3 linked regions of the Homo sapiens genome follow. The protein of the gene in region 2 interacts with the protein of the main gene of each other region in a biochemical or structural test. Each region holds a gene or a part of one and is shown on either strand. Other genes may lie near its edges.

Region 1 (3,170 bases), on a different chromosome or scaffold from region 2:
GGAGGCGGAGCTTGCAGTGAGCCGAGATCGCGCCACTGCACTCCAGCCTGGGTGACAGAGCCAGATTCCGACTCAAAAAAAAAAAAAAAAAAAAAAAAAACACCAAGCGCACTCTTCCCCAAGGCTTTTCCACTTGCCATTTCCTCTACCTGAAATGCTTTTCTCCTAGATAGCCACATGGCTAGTCTTGTCTTTTCTTTTCTTTCTATTTTTTTTGATAGAGTCTCATACTCTGTTGCCCAGGCTGGAGTGCAGTGGCGCCATCTCGGCTCACTGCAACCTCCGCCTCCTGCGTTCAAGTGATTCTCCTGCCTCAGCCTCCTGCATAGCTGGGATTACAGGCATGTGCCACCACACCCAGCTAATTTTTTGTATTTTTAGTAGAGATGAGCTTTCACCATGTTGACCACGCTGGTCTCAAACTCCTGGCCTCAGGCGATCTGCCCACCTCCGCCTCCCAAAGTGCTCAGATTACAGGTGTGTTTTTTATTTTCTATCTGTTGAGTATAGTGCCTGTCACCTAGTAGGTGCTCAATAACTTAATTAATGCTTTCTCTGTGCCAGGTAACTGTGCTATGCTCCCAAAGGAGGATGTAACTGGGGCTCACGGAAGTTAATTTGCCCAAGTTAATTCAACTAAAAACTTGTGCAGGCCGAGCACGGTGGCTCACACCTCTAATCCCAGCACTTTGGAAGGCTGAGACAAGAGGATTGTTGAGGTCAGGAATTCAAGACCAGCCTGGTCAACAGAGTGAGATGTCCTCTCTAGGAAAAGAAGAAGGAAGAAGAAGTTGTACAGTCAGTATTCAAACTCAAGTTTACCTGACTCCCAAACTCTTGCTTTTTCCATATCACACGATTCTCACTATGGAAGAATGAAAGGAAACTGTAGAAGTCAAAGGATCTTGGTCTGAATTCAAGATCTTGGTTTGATCTTGGATCTTTTGCAGAAGTCAAAAGATTTTGGTTTGAATTCAATCTATATTACTTATTTTGTGACCTTGGTTCTGTCACCAGAATCTAAGCCTGTCCACATTTCTAAAAAATGTGATTGGGCTGGGTGCAGTGGCTCACGCCTGTAATCCCAGCACTTTGGGAGGCCGAGGTGAGTGGATCACTTGAGGTCAGGAGTTCGAGACCAGCCTGGCCAACATGGTGAAACCCCGTCTCTACTAAAAATACAAAAAAAAAAAAAAATTAGCAGGGCGTGATGGTGGGTGCCTGTAATCCCAGCTAGTCAGGAGGCTGAGGCAGGGAGAATTGCTTGAACCCAGGGGGCAGAGGTTGCAGTGAGCCGAGATTGCTCCATTGCACTCCAGCCTGGGCGACAGAGTGACAGACTCCATCTCAAAACAAAACAAAACAAACAAAAAAATATATATATACACATATATATACACATATATACACATATATACATGTATACACATATATATACATATATACACATATATATACACACACATATACACACACACACACACACACACACACACACACACACACACACACACACACATATATATATGATGAATACCAGCCCTGCCTATCCTGGGGTTGTTTCATTCAGTGGGATTTAACCTCAGAAGTTTTGAAATTTTGCTAAAACATCAGATAAAGGTTTATTTGAAAGGATTATTTGATTATTTTTGAAGGATTATTTGAAAACATCATATAAAGTGATGTTCTAGGTATGAAGACCCCTCCCTCTACACTGTTTCCCCAAAAGCCCTCGCACCTTTCCTCACATCTTTCATACTTTCCTCGCCACCCTTCCCTTCTCCCCCACAGTGCAGTTTTCTGCTGCAGTTCTTCACAGGTTGGTGGAAGTGTATAGGAGCCCCCTGCCTCCTGGAGCCTCTAGGACTTTAGCCAAGCCCAAGAAAGTCTCAGGAATTCCCCCCACTGCCCCCATCCTTCGTTGTGCAGGGCAGCTGAGGGGCCCCAGATCAGGGACCAGCAGAGAGAAATGCTCTGCTGGTCTCAACAGCTTTGTCATGATCTCTTGCCTGGCACAGTGATACTGTCGGCAGAAGCCCTGGCATTGCGGCGAGCAAAGCAGGCCCAGCGGCGGGCACAGCAAACACCTGTGCAACTGAGTAAGGAGCAAGAAGAGCTGATCCGGACACTCCTGGGGGCCCACACCCGCCACATGGGCACCATGTTTGAACAGTTTGTGCAGTTTAGGGTGAGCACCGACAGGATTTGGGTTGGAATACAACTAAAAGGGCACCCAAAAATGCTGGTCTGAAGGAGAGGGGTGTATGCCATGCACTGATACTGAGAACAGATCTCCAGAACCCCAGCCTGAGCAGGCTTCTCAGCAAGGAACTCTTCCAAGATAAGGCTGGCGAGGCCTAAAGGAGGGCCCTAGGGCCAGAGCCTCTAGCTAATGTTCTGATCATTGCAGCCTCCAGCTCATCTGTTCATCCATCACCAGCCCTTGCCCACCCTGGCCCCTGTGCTGCCTCTGGTCACACACTTCGCAGACATCAACACTTTCATGGTACTGCAAGTCATCAAGTTTACTAAGGACCTGCCCGTCTTCCGGTGAGTGACCTCCCCTCATCTTTCAGGAGGCAAACACTTCAGTAAATTGTATATCCACCCCGAAAAGTCACTGACTACAAATTATCACATGCGTCAGCCTTTCCAAGCATTAGGTCTTGAATTCCCAGCTTTGGTTTTAAATGTGCCAATCAGAACTGGGAGTTCTTCTCCATCTCTGAAGTACAGGCTTGCATCTAAAGTGCCCTTGAGGTGCCGCGCAGTGGCTCACACTAGTAATCCCAGCACTTTGGGAGGCGGAGGCTGGCAGATCGCTTGAGTCCAGAAGTTTGAGACCAGCCTCAGCAACATGACAAAACCCCAACTCTACAAAAAATACAAAAATTAGCTGGGCATGATGGTGGGTGCCTGTAGTCCCAGGTACTCAGGAAGCTGAAGTGGGAGGATCACTTGAGCCCAGGAGGTTGAGGCTGCAGTGAGCTCAGATAGCACCGCTGCATTCCAGCCTGGGTGACAGAGTGAGACTCTGTCTCAAAAAATGAAAGCTAAAAATAATAATAATAGGCCAGGCACGGTGGCTCATGCCTGTAATCCCAGCACTTTGAGAGGCCAAGGTGGGTGGATCACTTGAGCTCAGGAATTTGAGACCAGCCTGGCCAACA
Region 2 (4,207 bases):
GCTGGTATATACCAACACCCTTCCCTGCCCCATGTCTTCACAGCTGTGTGGCAAGTGAAGACTAATGGATCCAGGCTTCCTGATGCTTCTATTTATCATTATTCACTTAGGAAGGGTGGGAAAAGAAATACTAATTACACACTTACCAATGGAATACTTTTACAAGGATCAAAATTTCTCACTGCGGCCATGAAAAAGAATGAGAGCTGGCGGCCATCATGCTTAGCAAAGTAATGCAGGAACAGAAAACCAAATATCACATGTTCTCACTTGCAAGTGGGAGCTAAATAAAGAGATCACCTGGACACTAGGAGGGGAACAACAGACACTGGAACCTACTTGAAGGTGGAGGGTGGGAAGAGGGAGAGAATGAGAAAAAATACCTATTGGATACTATTACCTGGGTGATGAAATAATCTGTACACCAAACCCCCACGACAAGCAATTCACTTATATAACAAACCCGCACATGTACTCCTGAACCTAAAAGTTAAAAGAAAAAAAAATATATACTAAAATGAAAACAATTCTCACTGTAACAATATTATCCCCTCGTAATTATTATATTCCTAAGTTTTAGGCACTTTTACATCCTGCTCGCTGCCCCCAGCTCTCTTAACACAGCATCCAGGACATAGTGGGCGCTTATAAATACTGATGGCATTAAACTGAGCGCTTATGATAGCATATTTAGAGCAGTGCTTTTCAAACGTCTAGGTGCATGTGAATCCCTGGGGACACCGTTAAAATGCAGATTCAGAGTTAGAAAGTCTGGTTGGAGCCTGAGATTGGGCATTTCCACCGAGTTCCCATATGATGCTTGTCTATGTTCTGTATTTTTCAAGGTCTCAGAAAATGAGACCTCCCTATCCATATACAAATATAAGTCACACAAACTGTGATAATTTAATGAAAGTTTACAAAGAGCATAGAAGTAGATGTTTCCTCTTTTCCCCTGCCCTCCCAATAAAGGGAACAAATTAGATGCGAGGGTTCAATGGAAAGAGTTGCAACAGCATCCAGGCGCTCGCTCTCCTCCGGTCTTCCTGAGACAGGGAAAGGGGTAATGAGAGGAAGGAGGAAAGTGTCCAGGAGCTCCCACGCTGCTGTTCTTCCATTTCCAGCTTTTAAAGAGCACCCGCCCCTTCGAACCACCGAGGTCATGGGCGAACACACCGGAGCGCAGCACCGCGCCCCCCCGCACACACCGCCCGCCTCCGCGCCCTTGCCCAGACCGAGGCGGCCGACGCGCCTGCGTGCGCGCTAGGTATAAATAGGTCCCAGGAGGCAGCCACTGGGCAGAACTGGGCTACGGGCGCCGCGGGCCATGGCGGGCGAGAACCACCAGTGGCAGGGCAGCATCCTCTACAACATGCTTATGAGCGCGAAGCAAACGCGCGCGGCTCCTGAGGCTCCAGAGACGCGGCTGGTGGATCAGTGCTGGGGCTGTTCGTGCGGCGATGAGCCCGGGGTGGGCAGAGAGGGGCTGCTGGGCGGGCGGAACGTGGCGCTCCTGTACCGCTGCTGCTTTTGCGGTAAAGACCACCCACGGCAGGGCAGCATCCTCTACAGCATGCTGACGAGCGCAAAGCAAACGTACGCGGCACCGAAGGCGCCCGAGGCGACGCTGGGTCCGTGCTGGGGCTGTTCGTGCGGCTCTGATCCCGGGGTGGGCAGAGCGGGGCTTCCGGGTGGGCGGCCCGTGGCACTCCTGTACCGCTGCTGCTTTTGTGGTGAAGACCACCCGCGGCAGGGCAGCATCCTCTACAGCTTGCTCACTAGCTCAAAGCAAACGCACGTGGCTCCGGCAGCGCCCGAGGCACGGCCAGGGGGCGCGTGGTGGGACCGCTCCTACTTCGCGCAGAGGCCAGGGGGTAAAGAGGCGCTACCAGGCGGGCGGGCCACGGCGCTTCTGTACCGCTGCTGCTTTTGCGGTGAAGACCACCCGCAGCAGGGCAGCACCCTCTACTGCGTGCCCACGAGCACAAATCAAGCGCAGGCGGCTCCGGAGGAGCGGCCGAGGGCCCCCTGGTGGGACACCTCCTCTGGTGCGCTGCGGCCGGTGGCGCTCAAGAGTCCACAGGTGGTCTGCGAGGCAGCCTCAGCGGGCCTGTTGAAGACGCTGCGCTTCGTCAAGTACTTGCCCTGCTTCCAGGTGCTGCCCCTGGACCAGCAGCTGGTGCTGGTGCGCAACTGCTGGGCGTCCCTGCTCATGCTTGAGCTGGCCCAGGACCGCTTGCAGTTCGAGACTGTGGAAGTCTCGGAGCCCAGCATGCTGCAGAAGATCCTCACCACCAGGCGGCGGGAGACCGGGGGCAACGAGCCACTGCCCGTGCCCACGCTGCAGCACCATTTGGCACCGCCGGCGGAGGCCAGGAAGGTGCCCTCCGCCTCCCAGGTCCAAGCCATCAAGTGCTTTCTTTCCAAATGCTGGAGTCTGAACATCAGTACCAAGGAGTACGCCTACCTCAAGGGGACCGTGCTCTTTAACCCGGGTAAGGGTACTGGCCTTAGGCGCCGGCTTTTCCCAGCTCACAAAAGCATCGGGCAGTGCCTATCTAGGGGCGCGGGCAGTAACGAGTTTTCAGTGATCAGGAGAGTGTCGGGGCAAAGGTGAAGAAATCGTGACTAACTCAGCAGAGTTGGGGTGGGGAGCTCCAGGAACCACTTCTGCTGGGTGGGCTGCTATCAGAAACTCAGCCAAGAGGAGGGGAGTTGTTTGTTTAGGTTTGTACTTGGCTCTCTACACATTTCTTACCATAGAAAAGTTTGTGCCTTCATGGGAAATGGTTATTCTTTCTTCTTTAGCTTTCTTTTAAGTCCAGAGCATATCTTTTTCTAAAAAAAGTTTTTGCTCACTGAAGATTCTGCAACATCGATTTCTGAAACCCCATTCTGAAATTTACTAGAACCTTTTTTGGGGGGAGGAAATCTATTAAGGCTAGCAAAAAAGGAAACATTTGTTAAAGGGTCCCATAGAGAGACTATTCCCTAGGGACACACAAGACACTAGATGTAGTGTTTCATGGGCCTGCCTCTGAATGGTTATTTGTATGGTCCTAAGCATCTGGACTATCCCTTCCTCCAAATCTCTGTGAATAATATCAGGTTGGCAAAGGGATAGGGAAAAAAGACACATTAGGGACTGAGAGCAGGAGCACTGTATTTTAGAATTCAAAGAGACTTTAGAGACCTGCTAATCAACCCCCTTTGCTCTGTAGCCTCCCCCCACCCCATTTTACTGAGTAGGTAGATGTGTCCCAAGGTCCCAAGTAAATGGTTGGTGTGTTGTGGCACCTGAGGGTCCTGTCTTCTGGGCCCAGTGGGATATTGGCTGCACTAAACTTTCAGGTTGTCTGTTGGGTGCTGGACACACTGTCCCACAGAGTGCAACCAAATCACTGGAGGAACGTCTCCCTGGACAGCCAGGCACCTTGTCTTGGGTGTTTCTCACTATTAGAATCATCTTCAACCAGCGTCCTTTCAAAATGATTGAAGTGGGAACAAAATTTTCCAGGCAACTTGAGTTGGGATAGTTTTTATAATGCTCCTTTTGTATCTTTTTTCCCTGGTGCTGGAATCTCTGATTAAGTCCCTGCCCCCTGCCTAGCATTTTTGAGGGTGCATAGATCAGTATTTGGTGGGATAATAATTTGTTCAAACCTCACGTTTCATGACGTAGAGACCTCAGCTCACCCCAGTGTCTATTATATGTTACCTTTTTGCTTATACCATTGTTTTCCAAACTTGCCTGTGCATAAGAAGTACTTGTGTGTGTGTGGTTGGGGGTGGGAGGGAGTAGATAAAAGTCTTTCTAGGCTCCTGCCTTATATATTCTGATTCAGTAGCTCTGGCCCAGGGTCTGCAAATCTGCATTCATAATAAGTGTCGCAGATGATTCTTAAGATTATTTGGAAAACAGTCTTCTTATTCCTTCAGCCAGTGTTACTAATCATCCACTATGTTCCTCGTCCTGTTGGGATATAAAGGTGAGAGGGGCTCAGCTTCCAGAAATTTACATTCCATTAGTTTCAGTATCAACAGTTTCCCTTGACTCTGTTTTATATACTTTTAACACACACACACACACACACACACACACACACACACACATTCTTCCTTATTCTTGATTGACTTTTCCTAATCCTCTCTCAATATGAGTTTAACCAGCTAAGCTGAGTGTGTTTGAAACACAAATGTACCTATA
Region 3 (3,653 bases), on a different chromosome or scaffold from region 2:
AGCCATTTTGCTTCTGTTAAAAACAATTTCTTAAATATTCAACTTTTCAGGAAACCACCTAAAGATAAATGTTAACTTTTCTAATTCTGTAAAAGGAGGAGTATTAATTTAGTAAAGTAGTTAAAATACAAAAAATGGAAATCTGCCTTTTTTTTAAAGGATCTATCAAACTTCCCTCAATTGTAATCAATTTTTACTAAGTAGCACAAGGTTTAAAGAAATATATATTGAAAAGGATCAGGGTGGGACAGACACATTGGGAACCACAAAACCTCTTCCAAGAGTTAAAAATAAACACCTTTTTTTTTTCTTTTTAGCAAAAGTGAAAAATGTAAGCATATATTTTTCTAATTTATTTTTGAATTGGATAATAAGCTGTGAATCAGCACTAGGTTTTTTTTTATTGGATAATTATCCTTTAAAGAGTTGTTTAACAGTTTAGACTTTAAAAATGTGTTATGTAGGCTGACTTCTGAAAAGCAAAATAAAGTACCCTAATAAAGGCAGCAAAATGCATTAATCCACTATGAATGGAGTTTTACATTTTAATTTATGCCTAATATTTATAAAAGAATTTCATTCATAGGCTACTCACAGTTGTTATCTGATGCATACAGAAGTGTTAAACAACCAATTGCTAGTTCAGTAGTTTCCTCATGACATCTAATGTTAAGCAAAAATTAGTATGCATATTTCAACATCACCAGTAACCAATACTTTTCAAAATGAAAAAAGTTTCAATTATACCATGCTTTTTTTCAAATCATGCTCTTATTTATACAGATCTCAAGTTCATACTCATTAGTTTTAAAAAGATCCAAAACTGGATGGCAGGTACATTTTATTCTGATTCTTTCTTTATCGTTAGCACGCTTCCCAGAAGTCCATAAACTTCTCCATTTGCGCTGTGTGGGCGAGAAGCATTATTTCCCATATGGCTATTGTAAGGGCTTCTTAAATTAAAGAAAGAAGCTTTCGTTTCTGCAGTAGGAAGTAACTCTTCTTTGGCTGTGACCTGTGAGACACTTTCAGCAGATGAAGCCTCCCTCCAAATGTCCTTGTCTTGTGTTTCTCGACTGGTAACAGAATTGCCTCCTTTTTGAAGCATGTAATATAGTATTGGGTTGGTTTTGGTCAATCTTGGAGAGTCTTTTTCATACTCATTCTTCTCCGCATCAGTGATAACCCACTTAATGGGTCCTTTCTCACTGGGCATGGAACACCCATTCAAAAGCCCAGATTCTGGTCTAGACCCTGCACAGCCCAAGTGCTCAGGGAAAGTAGGACTCACAGGAGTTTTTACTACACCTGGGTATGAAAATGTCCTGTTATCCATGCAACTGCTGGGCTGAGTGGAACTGTACATCAGTCCATTTAAAGAAGAAATGCTAAATTCAGGTTTGCTGTTGGTCACATTATTTTTGTGTCCTTTCTTTTTACTGTCAGCCACAGAGTTACTTCTGTGCGGGGACAAATCTCGCACACAGTTTTCTGAGAGAAGCAGCTGTTTCAGAACATTAAAGCTTTTGCTCTCTCTGGCCCAACTCCTGTGTTCACTTTCGCTGGCTGAGCCATGACCAGCAGGATATTTAAATTCAAGATCATTTCTGCTAAATTTCAGCTCTTCCTGGTTAAGCAAGGACCCATACAGTACTTCTGGGGCACTGTGATTGTTTGCAGCATCAACAATGTTGTTTTTCATCTTTTTAAATGGATTTTCTAATGGCTCAGTATAAAGCTTCCTTTTCTTAGGGACCATGCAAAGATTCTTTGATTCTAGAAGTGCCATTTCATTATTTCTGTGACTCCTGTCTGAATCATCTGCCAGGTAACTATCTTGATTTTGTCTTAGCAATCGACTTAGCAGACCATTCTTGGAGAAAGAAAAATCCTGAGGTGAAACAGGCTCCGATTTAAAGTCTTCGGACACTGGTAAGGCAGGTGCGCTTCTCTGCACAGCAGGAGCCATACCCAAGAATGGGGCACTCTTAGCATCATGGCTCAAGTGCACATTTGTGTTAGGAATTTGTAAGTCATCACAAGGCTCAGATTTTATTTTCACCATCAGTATTTGTTCACTTAAAGCTCTCTCTGAGTGTTCCTGAGTACTTTCATCTCTTAAGGGAGTTTTCTCTTTTTTTTCACTCTTCCCTTTGTTGGGGTTCCCCAGGAGCAACTGGAGGACAGTACGTCTTTCAAGCAGATTTTCTATTTCAGAACCAGAAAGCCCTGGTTCAGGACCTGTTGGTTGACTACTAAATGCTTTATTTTCTTCAACTGCATTTGTTTTATTTGAGAGCAAAGGGCTATTTAATCTATCAATCATACCTATCGGTTTATCTGTGTTTCCAGTTAACAGCTGTTTGCTGGGTCTCTGCTCTTCCACTGACATGGATGACTGCATTCCACATTGTGCTAAATTTTGTAACAGCTTACTGGCACTAAACGTTGCAGAGTTCTGTGCACCTTCATTTTGGGCTGGTTTCTCTCCTGGTGGGTCTTTGCTTTTTGTAAGGTCCATTGAGTGGTTAGATGCAGTATTTGTTAGCTTTTCAGACTGAGTACTGCAGACATATGGTGGGGAATTCCATTTGATGACCAGAGAGTGTTGAGAGAGATTGATGGGAGACCCTGCTTTGCTTGATGTAAGTAAAGGTGGAGTGCTCACTGGAGTAGTCCGATTTGTACTGGGGCTTTCTATCACAGAAGTCCTTGCATAATTTTGTGTATTGAACTTGCTCACATCATTGTGTACTCCCTGAGGGCTGGTGTTTTTTTCTACATTTTCTTCATTCTTATGGCCAAGTAGCAATTGAAGAAGTGTTACTTTCTGGTGTGAGTTTAGCTTAGAATTCTTTGAGGTATCTTGATCTTCTTTGATATCTACATCTGGGACTTTTGGATCCCAAGTGTTTAGCAAGGATTGAGTGAAGTTATCCAGGGAAACAGGTTGGTCAGATTCTGATTTTTCAGTTCGGTGTTTGCAAGACAAGTCTATGGGAACACAGTTGGAATAAGAACTTTCATCACCACTGCTGTCATCTGTAAAACTAGGATTGTTATCTGAATATTCATCAATAGTTGTAGGTGTACTACTTTCCTCAAAAATGCTTCCTCTCTCACTGTGACTGTGTCCATTCATTGGCTTAGGTATAGTCTGGCTTTTAAGAAGATGTAAAAGCAAACTATTGTTAGCAGCTTGTTTTATATTGTTTCTTTCCAGTGAGTTCTTATAACCTGCATTTTTAGGGGAAGAAGGAATGATACCCATTGGATTTTGAAACACTGTAGCACTACTTTTGCTAGCCATCAGTTTGCTTGATGATGTTCTTGCCTGACCATTAAGATGGCTTGACATTCCTTTTGGGAGCTGGTAACTGCCAACATCCTTCTGGCCATTTTCTTGCAATCTGGCCATAGCAGCAAGTCTTTCACTTGCTGCTTGATTTGCATTTTGCGTTTTTAAAGCGTGTTCTCGAGAATACTGCTGCAAATGGGCTTCGCTTGACAGAAGTAATGCTAACTGGCTACAAGCAACACTAGGTTTAGGTGAGGTGGCAGGACTAGCCCTTTTTTCCACCATGCTTGCAACAGCCTGTAATCTTGCAGCACATGACAACGGTTCACTCATGACCTTTGTTCCACTTTGTCCA

The links.
Region 1: the proteins of NR0B1 (region 2) and NR1I3 form a complex in vitro, tested with the Homo sapiens proteins (one study listed by BioGRID).
Region 3: the proteins of NR0B1 (region 2) and NRIP1 form a complex in vitro, tested with the Homo sapiens proteins (one study listed by BioGRID).

Annotation. Positions count from the first base shown.
Region 1 is NC_000001.11:161,232,187-161,235,356, reverse strand, and holds part of NR1I3 (nuclear receptor subfamily 1 group I member 3), read left to right. Parts: intron 1-2,018; coding exon 2,019-2,188; intron 2,189-2,410; coding exon 2,411-2,550; intron 2,551-3,170. UniProt on the Homo sapiens protein: Binds and transactivates the retinoic acid response elements that control expression of the retinoic acid receptor beta 2 and alcohol dehydrogenase 3 genes.
Region 2 is NC_000023.11:30,306,484-30,310,690, reverse strand, and holds the start of NR0B1 (nuclear receptor subfamily 0 group B member 1), read left to right. Parts: upstream 1-1,300; 5' UTR 1,301-1,327; coding exon 1,328-2,495; intron 2,496-4,207. UniProt on the Homo sapiens protein: Nuclear receptor that lacks a DNA-binding domain and acts as a corepressor that inhibits the transcriptional activity of other nuclear receptors through heterodimeric interactions.
Region 3 is NC_000021.9:14,963,875-14,967,527, forward strand, and holds part of NRIP1 (nuclear receptor-interacting protein 1), read right to left. Parts: coding exon 842-3,653; 3' UTR 1-841. UniProt on the Homo sapiens protein: Modulates transcriptional activation by steroid receptors such as NR3C1, NR3C2 and ESR1. Also modulates transcriptional repression by nuclear hormone receptors.